Linked DNA regions of Homo sapiens: region 1 is linked to region 2. A link means that fine-mapping ties the variant in region 2 to the expression of a gene that starts in the linked region. Tissue or cell type: lung. Region 2 holds a variant in brackets; the other region holds the start of a gene. All regions are shown on one strand. Distances are between the middles of the regions. Region 1 holds the start of HEATR5A (HEAT repeat containing 5A). Region 2 overlaps HEATR5A (HEAT repeat containing 5A).

What was found.
Region 1: it holds the start of HEATR5A, and the variant in region 2 is fine-mapped to the expression of HEATR5A in lung (TOPMed, PIP above 0.99). The same link has a PIP of 0.9 or more in esophagus mucosa.

The regions. Positions count from the first base shown.
Region 1 is chr14:31,417,549-31,422,933 of GRCh38, reverse strand. HEATR5A (HEAT repeat containing 5A) reads left to right here and starts at 2,384. Exons shown (of 36, transcript NM_015473.4): 1 at 2,384-2,462. It overlaps HEATR5A-DT (HEATR5A divergent transcript), which reads right to left and starts at 2,176. Exons shown (of 4, transcript NR_110045.1): 1 at 1,957-2,176; 2 at 966-1,090. RefSeq lists enhancers at 2,064-2,213, 2,644-2,693 and a silencer at 2,804-2,923.
Region 2 is chr14:31,391,305-31,396,689 of GRCh38, reverse strand. It overlaps HEATR5A (HEAT repeat containing 5A), which reads left to right. Exons shown (of 36, transcript NM_015473.4): 5 at 1,342-1,491; 6 at 2,464-2,638. Among named protein-coding and RNA genes, the nearest start is that of HEATR5A, 27 kb to the left of the region's middle. The variant C/T (reference allele first, on the strand shown) is at 2,066.

The DNA.
Region 1 (5,385 bases), 26 kb before region 2:
TGGATTATGTGTATATGGTATTTAAAGCTCTTTTAATTATTCTGTATTAAAAAATATTTTACAATAAAATGTTTACAGAATCTAAGGCTGGGGCCAGGCGCGGTGGCTCATGCCTGTAATCTCAGCACTTTGGGAGGCCGAGGCGGGCTGATCATGAGGTCAGGAGTTTGAGACCAGCCTGAGCAACACAGTGAAACCCCGTCTCTACTAAAAATACAAAAATTTGCCAGGTATGGTGGCACACGCCTGTAATCCCAGCTACTCAGGAGCTGAGGCCAGTGAATTGCTTGAACCCGGGAGGCGGAGGCTGCAGTGAGCCAAGATCACACCACTGCACTCCAGCCTGGGTGACAGAGCGAGACTCCGTCTCAAAAAAAAAAAAAAAAAAGAGAGAGAGAATTTAAGGCTGGGTACAGTGGGTCACACCTGTAATCCCAGCACTTTGGGAGGCTGAGGCGGGTGGATCGCTTGGGCCCAGGAGTTCGAGACCAGCCTGGGCAAAATGGTGAAACCCTGTCTCTACAAAAACAAAAACAAACAAACAAAATTAGCCAGGCACAGTGGCACACCCATTGTCCCTGCTACTTGAGTGGCTGAGGTGGGAGAATCACCTGAGCCTAGGAGGTTGAGCCTGCAGTGAGCTGTGATCAGACTACTGCACTCCAGCCTGGGTGACAGAGTGAGACCTTGTCTTCTTGTCTCAAAAAAAAAAAAATTACACACACACACACACACACACAACACAGAAGCTAGAATGAATATGAGACCTTGTCTTCTTGTCTTAAAAAAAAATTGAACACACACACACACACACACACACACACACACACACATATCACAGAAGATAGAATGAATGGGGCCCCTACCCACCAAACTTGGGATAATTGAGCATCAAAATAAATAATGATAGAGACAGAATATTGGCTGGTGTGGTGGTGTGCATGCCTGCAGTCTCAGCTACTTACCTGGGAGGCTGAGGCAGAAGGATCACATGAGCCCAGAAGTTCAAGGCTGTAGTGTGCACCATGATTGCATTATCGACCTGTGAATAGCCACTGCACTCCGGCCTGGGCAACAAAGGAGGCCCTGTCTCAAGAAAAAAAAAAAAAAAAAGAGAGAGAGAAAAGAGAGAAAGAAACGGATTATAAGTCATTTAACAAAATAGAAACCTCTGGATCCATACTAATTAATATAAATACATTAACTGAAGATTTGATGAGAAACAAGATATTTACAAATATCTTGAAAGGAGAGTTTCAGAGTCTCCCTCACAAAATACTTATTAATTTACAAAGGGGGGAAAAAAGTAACCACACTGGACAAGCCTAACAGACATCACCTTATTAAAGTAAACATCTGTAATGAGAGAAGTTAAAATCGTGCCACCTGATAGGGTGCCATGAGAAGAAAGCAGCAACACTTCTAGAGTCCTGTCATACCTAGCTAAATGTAATCATGAGTAAATATCAGACAGACCCAAAATGAAGGCCATTCTACAAAAATAACTGGCCAGGAATCTTTAACAGCGTCAAGAATATGAAAGGCAAGGCAAGACTGAGAGTTCCAGTTTGAAGAGTAGGAAAGATACATGATAAGTAAATACAATGCCTGATTCTGAACGGAATCTTTTACCATAAACAATATTATTGGGACAATTGGTAAAACGCCGAGTTATGTAAATGTTTTGATTTTGATGGTTATATTGTGATTATGTAGAAGGTGCTTAGGGACAATGTGGCATGGTGTCAGCAATTTAAATCTCAATTCAGGGAAAAAAAGTTCTTTGTACTATACTTGCAACCTTTTTGTAAGCTGGAGATAGATTCAAAATGAAACTTGAAAAATGACATTTAAAACGCTGAGTGTAGTGGGAAAACGCACATGACTCAAGGTAAGAGGCTATTAGTCTCAGTTCTGCCATTGACTTAGTATGTGACCTTGAGCAAGTCACTTTACCTCAGTCCTCACAGTCAAGGCTCTCTAGGGTCCCTTCCACGTCTAACATCTACCCCCACAGCACTGGCCCCGCCTGAATTTCTCCAGGCCCTTTAGGTGTCCCAGAGCTGCACCCAAAGACTCTGGCTTACGATAAAAACAGACAAAAATAGTTGTGGCCGGAATCTCCGGACTGAAAAACCGCTGTCCTAATCCTAACTTGGGCCGCAGTCTCCATCGCTCTTTCGACGGTGAAGCAGTCACGCCTGCCAGAGTGGGCGCTCGATGGCTCGGCGGCCAGCTGGCGGGGCCTTGGACCAGCGGCCCGGCGCAGGGCGCGCTCCCAATCGCTAGCTCCCGCGGTGCTCGCCGCTGAGAGCTTTCCGGCCACGCCCCACGCGCGCCCCGCCCACCTCAATGCCTCGCTGTCGCCGCCGCCGGCAATTCCAGACTCTGCTAGGGTTAGCAGAGCAGCCGGTAACGTTGCTGGACCGGGACGCACGCTCAGCTGAGGAGGACCCCCAAAGGCAGGCAGTCGGGGATCCAGGGAGCGGGGACACCTCCGGGCGCGAGGGGGCTGTGTCTGGGCTGCCTGTTGGCTGGGAAGGAGAACGCACCAGGGCCGCTGTATGAGTTGAGCGCTCGGGGATCCCGAGGGTGGTCGCGGCAGCAATGTGATCGCGAAAGAAGCCGGTGGGAGAACCGGTCGAGGGGCTAGGTGTCTTGACCCTAAGGGCTGGAGTCCGCCGAGAAGGGGCTGACTGGGGCACAGGGTCGGCTGATAAACAGCGTGGTCCGTTCTTCCTCCTGGACTACGGGAAAGTCTGGCTTCACCTGTGCACAACAGGTAGGCGTGGACTCTGCCCGCCAGCGGGAGCCGGGGTTGCCGGGCGTGTGGGGAAGGTCAGCAAGTCGGAGCCCGCCTCGCCAACTCGCCGCTCCCGGGACCCGCCCTGCGGCGTCCGCTGCGCCAGTGGTCAGCCAGGAGCCGGGCCCCGGCCCGGCCTTCGGGCGAGCTTCCTCAGAGGCCCGTTCGTTTTCTGCAGGAACCCTCAAAGAGAGTTCCCAGAAGGGAGCAGTGGAGAGTGTGGATATTTGCTTTCTAACTGTTGCAGTTCTCTCCAGGAAAGAAAGCTTTTCCTTTGGTGGCATTTGCTTAGTGTGAGGAAACATTTTCTTTCACCCTACTCTCGGCCAACGCGGCGTTATTTCAAGTGATTATAAAGTCTTTAGAAACTTTATAAAGCGTTTTATAGTGTTTATTTATCACAGTAATGGATACCTCTGGCAAGTTGGGATAATTTTCTTGACTGTCAAGTCAGATAATAATAAAATGGCTTGAGCTCCTACATTAAAGGTCATAGTTATCCATTGTTTTTATGTGCATTCATTTATTGAACAAATATGCAGCACTTTTTTGGGGCTAGGCGCCCTTAAGGAATTTACAGCCTGAAAGATATTAGAAGTTTAAGGAGGAAAAAAAGGGGCCCACAAGTACACTTAAGAACTTCCAGAGAAAATACTCCCAGTGAAATTACTTAAGCTGTAGGGAAAGCAGAAGTGTGGTTAGAATTGAGCATTAGTTGGATGGGGAGAGGAGAATTTTGTTTAATTTTCCAAACATTTTAGAAAGTATGTCTTTGAGAAAGTAATTTTAGATAAAGTATCGAAGCCGAGATTTGTGTTACATTTTAATGCCATTGACTTTTTTTTTTTCTTCACTGATAAGCAGGCAGGATTTATAATATAAGAATAGTGACAGTTGGAGAATACTGTAGTATGGATTTGTTGTGCCTTGGAATGCAGTTGTTTTACCTAGATGACTATAGAATAGGAGAATAAGAAAAGACTCCTCACCTGAAAGTCAGGAGACCTGAATTCTAGCTTAAGTTCCCTCCACTATTTATGGATGTTAGATTAGGTCACTTTTTTAGTATTATTCATTATTGTATCTGACTTTAGTCACAGAAAATACATGACTCCAAAGTACCTTTTTAATTCTTAAATTATTAATTAAAATTAACTACATTAAACTAATGAATATATTATCTACAGAAAAAAATTATTTTTTTACTTGTCTTTAACCAATACACTTACCTTTCTTCTTGCTTTGTTTCAAAAAGGTTGAGGTAGTTTATAATAGTCTTTCTTAACTATGAATAACATAAGGGTTAAATTCTGAATTTTTTAAATTCTAAAATTATTCTGAATTAAGCGTTTAATGACATCTGCATTTTTTTAAAAAGCTCTATTGAGTCTTGTGTGGTTCATTAATTATCCCATAGTATAATTGAAGAGTTTGAACAATCCTTTAATGAGACCACAGTCCTCATATAAATAACACTTCTGCTTTTTCAGGAGACATTGAGAAACTGTTATTAAATCTCATTTGAGAAATCAATTAACTGGGGCCAAAAAACTTAGTAAAGACTTGCCTGTGTCACTTAATTAGATCCCTTGTCTAGTTCTAGTGTTAAATTTTTGAATTAAAATAGTGCTCAGCAATCTACAGCCTGTGGGTCAAATCTGCTCTGCTGGCAGTTTTATAAAAGTTTTATTGAACACAACAATGCTCCTTCGTTATGGCTGTGCATGTTTTGTTTTTGAGTAGTTGTGATAGAGACCGTATGGCTCCCAAAGCCTAGAGTATTGTCTGGTCCTTTACAGAAAAAAATTAGTGGACCCCTGAACTAGAGCTCTTAAGTGCTTAATCACTAAATCTTTTGTAGGAGGAAATAGATTAAATTCAGTTTTAATTCTTCTGTTTGTTTGTTTGTTTTTGTTTTTATCGAGACAGGGTCTGGCTCTGTAGCCCAGGCTGGAGTGCAGTGGCGCGATCTTGGCTCACTTGCAAGCTCTACCTCCCCGGTGCAAGTGATTCTCCTGCCTTAGCCTCCCGAGTAGCTGGGAGTACAGGCATGCACCACCACGCCAGGCTAATTTTTGTATTTTTAGTAGAGACGGGATTTCACCATGTTGGCCAAGCTGGTCTCCAACTCCTGATCTCAGGTGATCCGCCCGCCTCGGCCTCCCAAAGTGCTGGGATATTACAGTCATGAGCCACTGCGCCCAGCCTCACTTTTACTTATTAATCTTGGTTTTTCATTATAATGTCAGGTAATTGTAGGACTCATAAATGCTTCTGGATCTGCAGTGTGTAATGATAGAGGAAGGGCATGGTTTTTCTGCTACATTTACCTAGTGTAAAGTTTTATAATTTTGGCAACTCTCTCCTTTTTTTTTTTTTTTGAGATGGAGTCTCGCTCTGTCCCCCAGGCTGGAGTGCAGTAGCGCCATCTAGGCTCACTGCAACCTGCGCCTCCTGGGTTCAAGCGATTCTCCTGCCTCAGCCTCCGGAGTAGCTGGGATTATAGGCGCGTGCCACCACGCCCATCTAATTTTTTTTTCTTTTTTTGAGACAGAGTCTTGTTCTGTCACCCAGGCTAGAGT
Region 2 (5,385 bases):
AGAAAAGTTCTGAAGTTGCTCGTTAGCATTATTTTATTATGTTCACCTATGACTTTTAAGTGCCTTTAAACAAAGATAAATTAACAATATTACTATGAAATGATTCTTGATGCTGATCTTTGTCTTCCTCCAACTCCAACTTCTCTACCTTCAGTGGCCCAACTTCCTGGGATATAGATATGATTTGAGGCATTTAGTAAAACATTAATAAAATAAGCAGCTACTATTTCTTTTTCTTTTTTTTTAAAGACAGGGTCTGGCTCTGTCACCCAGGCTGGAGTTCAGTGGTGCAGTCTGTACTCACTGCACCCTCTGCCTCCGATTGTACCCTCTGCCTCCCACTGCACCCTCTGCTTGCCAGGCTCAAGCCACCCTCCCACCTCAGCCTCTCAGTAGCTGAGACTAAAGGTGTGCACTACCACGCTCCCACCTCAGTCTCCTGAGTAGCTGGTTCTAGAGATGTGCACTAACACTCCTGACTAAAATTGTATTTTTTGTAGAGTTAAGGTTTCACCATGTTGCCCAGGCTGGTCTCGAAGTCCTGAGCTCAAGCAATCGGCCCACCTTGGCCTCCCAAAGTGCTGAGATTGCAGGTGTGAGCCACCGCACCCAGCCAAGCAGCTACTATTTCTTGACTTTTAACTGTGTGCCAGGCACTGTGGTGAATGTTTACCCATGAGGTTCATCTTATCCTCATTTTATAGATGAGGAAATAAGAACAATTTAAAGTCACAAAGTTACTGCGGGTCACAGAGAAGTTCAAACCCAGGTTTTTTCAATTCTAAAGCCAAGACTTTTAAACTGTGAGTTAAGCTGTTCCAACCAATAAATAATAACAAAGTATAGCTACCAAATCTATTGAACATTTGTTGTATGTCTGGGCTTGTTGTAAGCACTTTGTGTGTATGACTCATTTATTCCTTACAACAGCCTATGAGGGATACTATTACCTCTGTTTTTTAGATGAAGGAACAGATTTGCCCAAGGTCCTATCTAGTAAATGGCAGACCCTGCATTTTTAATAGGTTAGCTTAGACTATAGCAACTATTTATTGAATGCTTAATGGCATGTAAGCTTTTTGCTAGGCACTTTTCATGTAATTTTGTTTAATCTTCACATCAACCCTGTGAAATTTGTATCATGTTGAAAATCAGTGTATACAAGTAACTTTTCAAATAATATTTCATAAAATAGTAACTTGTTTCTTGATGTCATAATGGGTTGGTTAGTATGTAGAGAAGTCTGGATATTTCTTCAGTATGAGAGACAGATATCAATGTTTAATCCTGTTCTTTGCAGTTTAATTATTTTTCCTATTTAATTTTTTTTCTTTTTGGAAGTCTCAAGGCCGATATGAGATTATGCTAAGTCTGCAAAATATATTGAATGGACTAGGAGCTGCCGCTGCACCTTGTCACAGGGATGTTTATAAAGCTGCTAGATCCTGCTTGACAGATAGATCCATGGCTGTTCGTTGTGCTGCTGCAAAGGTAAAATGATCTAATAAGCAGACTTTAAAAATTAATATAAAGAAAAGTAAATCAGCTTCTTTGTGAAAGCATTAGTAAAAGCTACATGATCTTGGTAGTCAGCTAGGACTATCTCATTTTAACATATGAGGAAACTAAGGCCCAGAGTTATATGAATTTCCCAAGGTTCAAAGAGTTAGCAACACATTGTCAGAGGGTAGGAAGTTCAGGTTTCCAGAATCTTAAGTATTCATTCTACTCTACTATGTTTTCTCCGTAATTGTGTAAATTAAAATTTACATGTGAGGTTTATGTTGTTTCAAAGTGATTTTTTGTTTTATTTTTAATTTATAGCTTCTTAACATAGTTGGTAAGAGAATACAGTAAAGTTTTTTTGTTTGTTCTTTTTTTTGAGACTCTGTCGCCCAGGCTGGAGTGTAGAGGCGCGATCTCGGCTCACTGCAAGCTCTGCCTCCCGGGTTCACGCCATTCTCCTGCCTCAGCCTCCTGAGTAGCCAGGACTACAGGTGCCTGCCACCATGCCCAGCTAATTTTTTTTTGTATTTTTAGTAGAGACGGGGTTCCACCATCTTAG[C/T]CAGGATGGTCTCTATCTCCTGACCTCGTGATCCGCCCGCCTTGGCCTCCCAAAGTGCTGGGATTACAGGTGTGAGCCTCCGTGCCCAGCCAGAGTTTTTTTAATGTTGGAATTATTCTCCCAGTTGTTCATAGCCAATAGATTGATTCTAAAGGCATTTTTCATAACCTGTGGAGTTAGAAATGGGTTCTCCTCCCACCTTTTGTAGGTTCATTCTCTTCTATAATATAATCTTTATGACTTTTAATAAGTATCCATTTATTATTCCTGTAATCATAATAGATACTTTGAATTTGTATATTATTTGTTAGACGCTGATAGTTTCTGCAACTTACATAGCTCTGAACCTGACATTTGTATTTTATTTTTCATTAATTTCTCTTTGTCCAATTGAATAGTGTCTCCTTGAACTTCAGAATGAAGCCATCTTTATGTGGAGTACGGACCTGGACAGTGTGGCCACACTGTGTTTTAAGTCCTTTGAAGGTTCCAATTATGATGTGCGGATTTCTGTTTCAAAGTTACTAGGCATAATATTAGCTAAAGCTGTAATTTCTAAACATCCAGGAACAGGTAAATACATGTAATTATTTTCAAAGTCTCTTCTGTAATTTTTTCCCCAGTTGATATAAACAAATATGTATAGTGTTATTGCTACCCGTTATAAATCAATTTCAGGCCAGGCATGGTGGCTCACACCTGTAATCCCAGCACTTTGGGAGGCCAAGGCGGGTGGATCACCTGAGGTCACAAGTTTGAGACCAGTCTGGCCAACATGGTGAGACCCGTCTATACTAAAAATACAAAAATTAGCTTGGTGTGATGGCACACGCCTGCAATCCCACCTACTTGGGATTACAAGAATCACTTGAACCCAGGAGGCAGAGGTTGTAGTGAGCTGAGATTGCGCCACTGCACAATCTCAGCCTGGACAACAAAGCGAAACTTCATCTCAAAAAAAAAAAATCAATTTCAATTCATAAACATTGCTGTAGGTCCTGAGATTTCATTTGAAACAATTCAGTAAAAATTTGAGGAAAATTTACAAGAACTCTTGAAGTGTGGTGTACTTTATGCAATCATTGTCTTCCTTTTACATTACAGCTTTTTTGTGTGTGTGACAGGGTCTGCTGTCACCCAGTCTGGAGAGCAGTGGTGCCATCTCAGCTCACTGAAACCTCTGCCTCCTGGTCTCAAGTGATCCTCCCACCTCAGCCTCCTGAGTAGGCGGGACCACAGGCTTTCACTGCCATCCCCGGCTAAATTTTTATATTTTTTGTGGAGATGGGATTTCACCATGTTAGCTCTGCTGGTCTCGAACTCCTGAGCTCAGGTGATCTGCCTTCCTTGGCCTCCCAAAGTGCTGGGATTACAGGCGTGAGCCACCACCCCCCAGCCATGGCCTTATTTTTATATATTTTTTTTAAAGTAATTGTGAAGTGTTATCCAATAAACGATATGATCTAAATACTGAATTTTCTTTTTTTTAAAGCAGCATGCATCTGACTACATATATTTGGCTTGCCATTTTTTAGATTGGTACAATGGAGCATATAATGTAGATAATTCTAGATACTTGTAGTTTATTGTATTTGGACAGTTTTGCTTTGTCTTAGTGATTTCATTGTTGTTGTTTTTGGAAACAGGGTCTCACTCTGCCACCCAGGGTGGAGCAGTAGTGCAATCACAGCTTACTACTTTCTCCGCCCCAACCCCAGAATTAGCCATTTCTCTAAGGAGTTCTGCTTTTGAATCTTTTGAATAGTCAAATAGAATAGATGTTGAGTGTGAAAGAGAAGTCCAGGATGACTTTATGAATTTTGGGCTGAAAACCTGGAAGTACAGAGTTGTCATCAACTGATTTGAGCAAGTGTGCAAGTAGAGCAGGCTGTGTATGTGTCAGGGAGGAGGATCAAGCACTGAGTTTAAAACAATTTGGAACATTAACTAGACATCGAAATAGAGATATCAGATAGACAGCTGGATATGAGAGTCTGGTGCCCAGGAGAGAAGACTGGACATCAAATTCATAAATTTTAGGAATAAATATATTTATTTTAGGAATAAATTAATAGTGATTATTCAGGAATCTCTAATATAGAGATGGAATTTAAGCTATGAGATTGGATAAGATCACAAGACAGTGAGTATACATAGAGAAGAGCAGACCAGGTACTAGGTCATGAGTTTTCTCTTGGAGAACACAAGAAACCATTGAAGAAGACAAAACAGAAATTTCCAGTGAGAAGGCAGGAAAGAAAGCCAAGAGAGCATGTCTTGTGGTCTTATCCAATCTCAGGCCATCTTAAAGTATTGCCAGATACATTGCATCATAATTATAAATGATAATTTTACAGTGGAAAAATGTGGCAGACTTACATTGTGCACATGTTCAAAGCTAGTATCATCTGTGTAGGGACAGACTGACACCACACCTGGCAGTGCTTTTTGATGTTATGCATTGAACAGGATGTAACATCACTTACATAGTTCTCTGTCAAAAATTTGGAGGAAATACCAGACAAACTCATATCAAGGGCCATTCTATAAAACAACTGGCCATAAGTGTATTCTTCAGAAGTGAGAAAGTAATGAGGAAAATGTGATGAGTCCAGGTAGATGCAGTCATGCATAGCTTAATAATAGGGACACATTCTGAGAAATGCATCATGAAGTGATTTTGTCATTGTGGGAACATCATAGAGTGAACTTACACAAATCTAGATGGTATAGCCTACTGCACACTAGGCTATATGGTATAGACTATTGCTCTTAGACTACACACCTCTACAGCATGTTACTATACTGAATACTGAGAAAACTGTAATACAATGGTATTTGTGTATCTAAACATGTCTAAATATAGAAAAGGAACAGTATAAATATGATATAAAAGATAAGAAATGGTACACACCTATACGGCACTGACCATGACTGGAACTTACAGGACTGGAAGTTGTTCTGGGTGAATCAGCGAGTGGCGAGTGAATGTGAAAGCCTAGGATATTACTGTATACTACTGTAGATGTTACAAACACTGTACACTTAGGCTATGCTAAATTTAAAAAATGTGTATTTTTCTTTAATAATAAATTAGCCTTTGTTTACTAAAAGTTTTTTACTTTATAAACTTTTTAATTTTTAAAATTTTTGATTCCTTTGAATATTTTTATAATAACATTTAGGGGCCAGGTGCAGTGGCTCATGCTTGTAATCCCAGCACTTTGGGAGGCCAAGGCGGATGGATTGCTTGAAGTCAGGAGTTCAAGACCAGCCTGGCCAAGATGGGGAAACCTCATCTGTCTACTAAAAATGCAAAA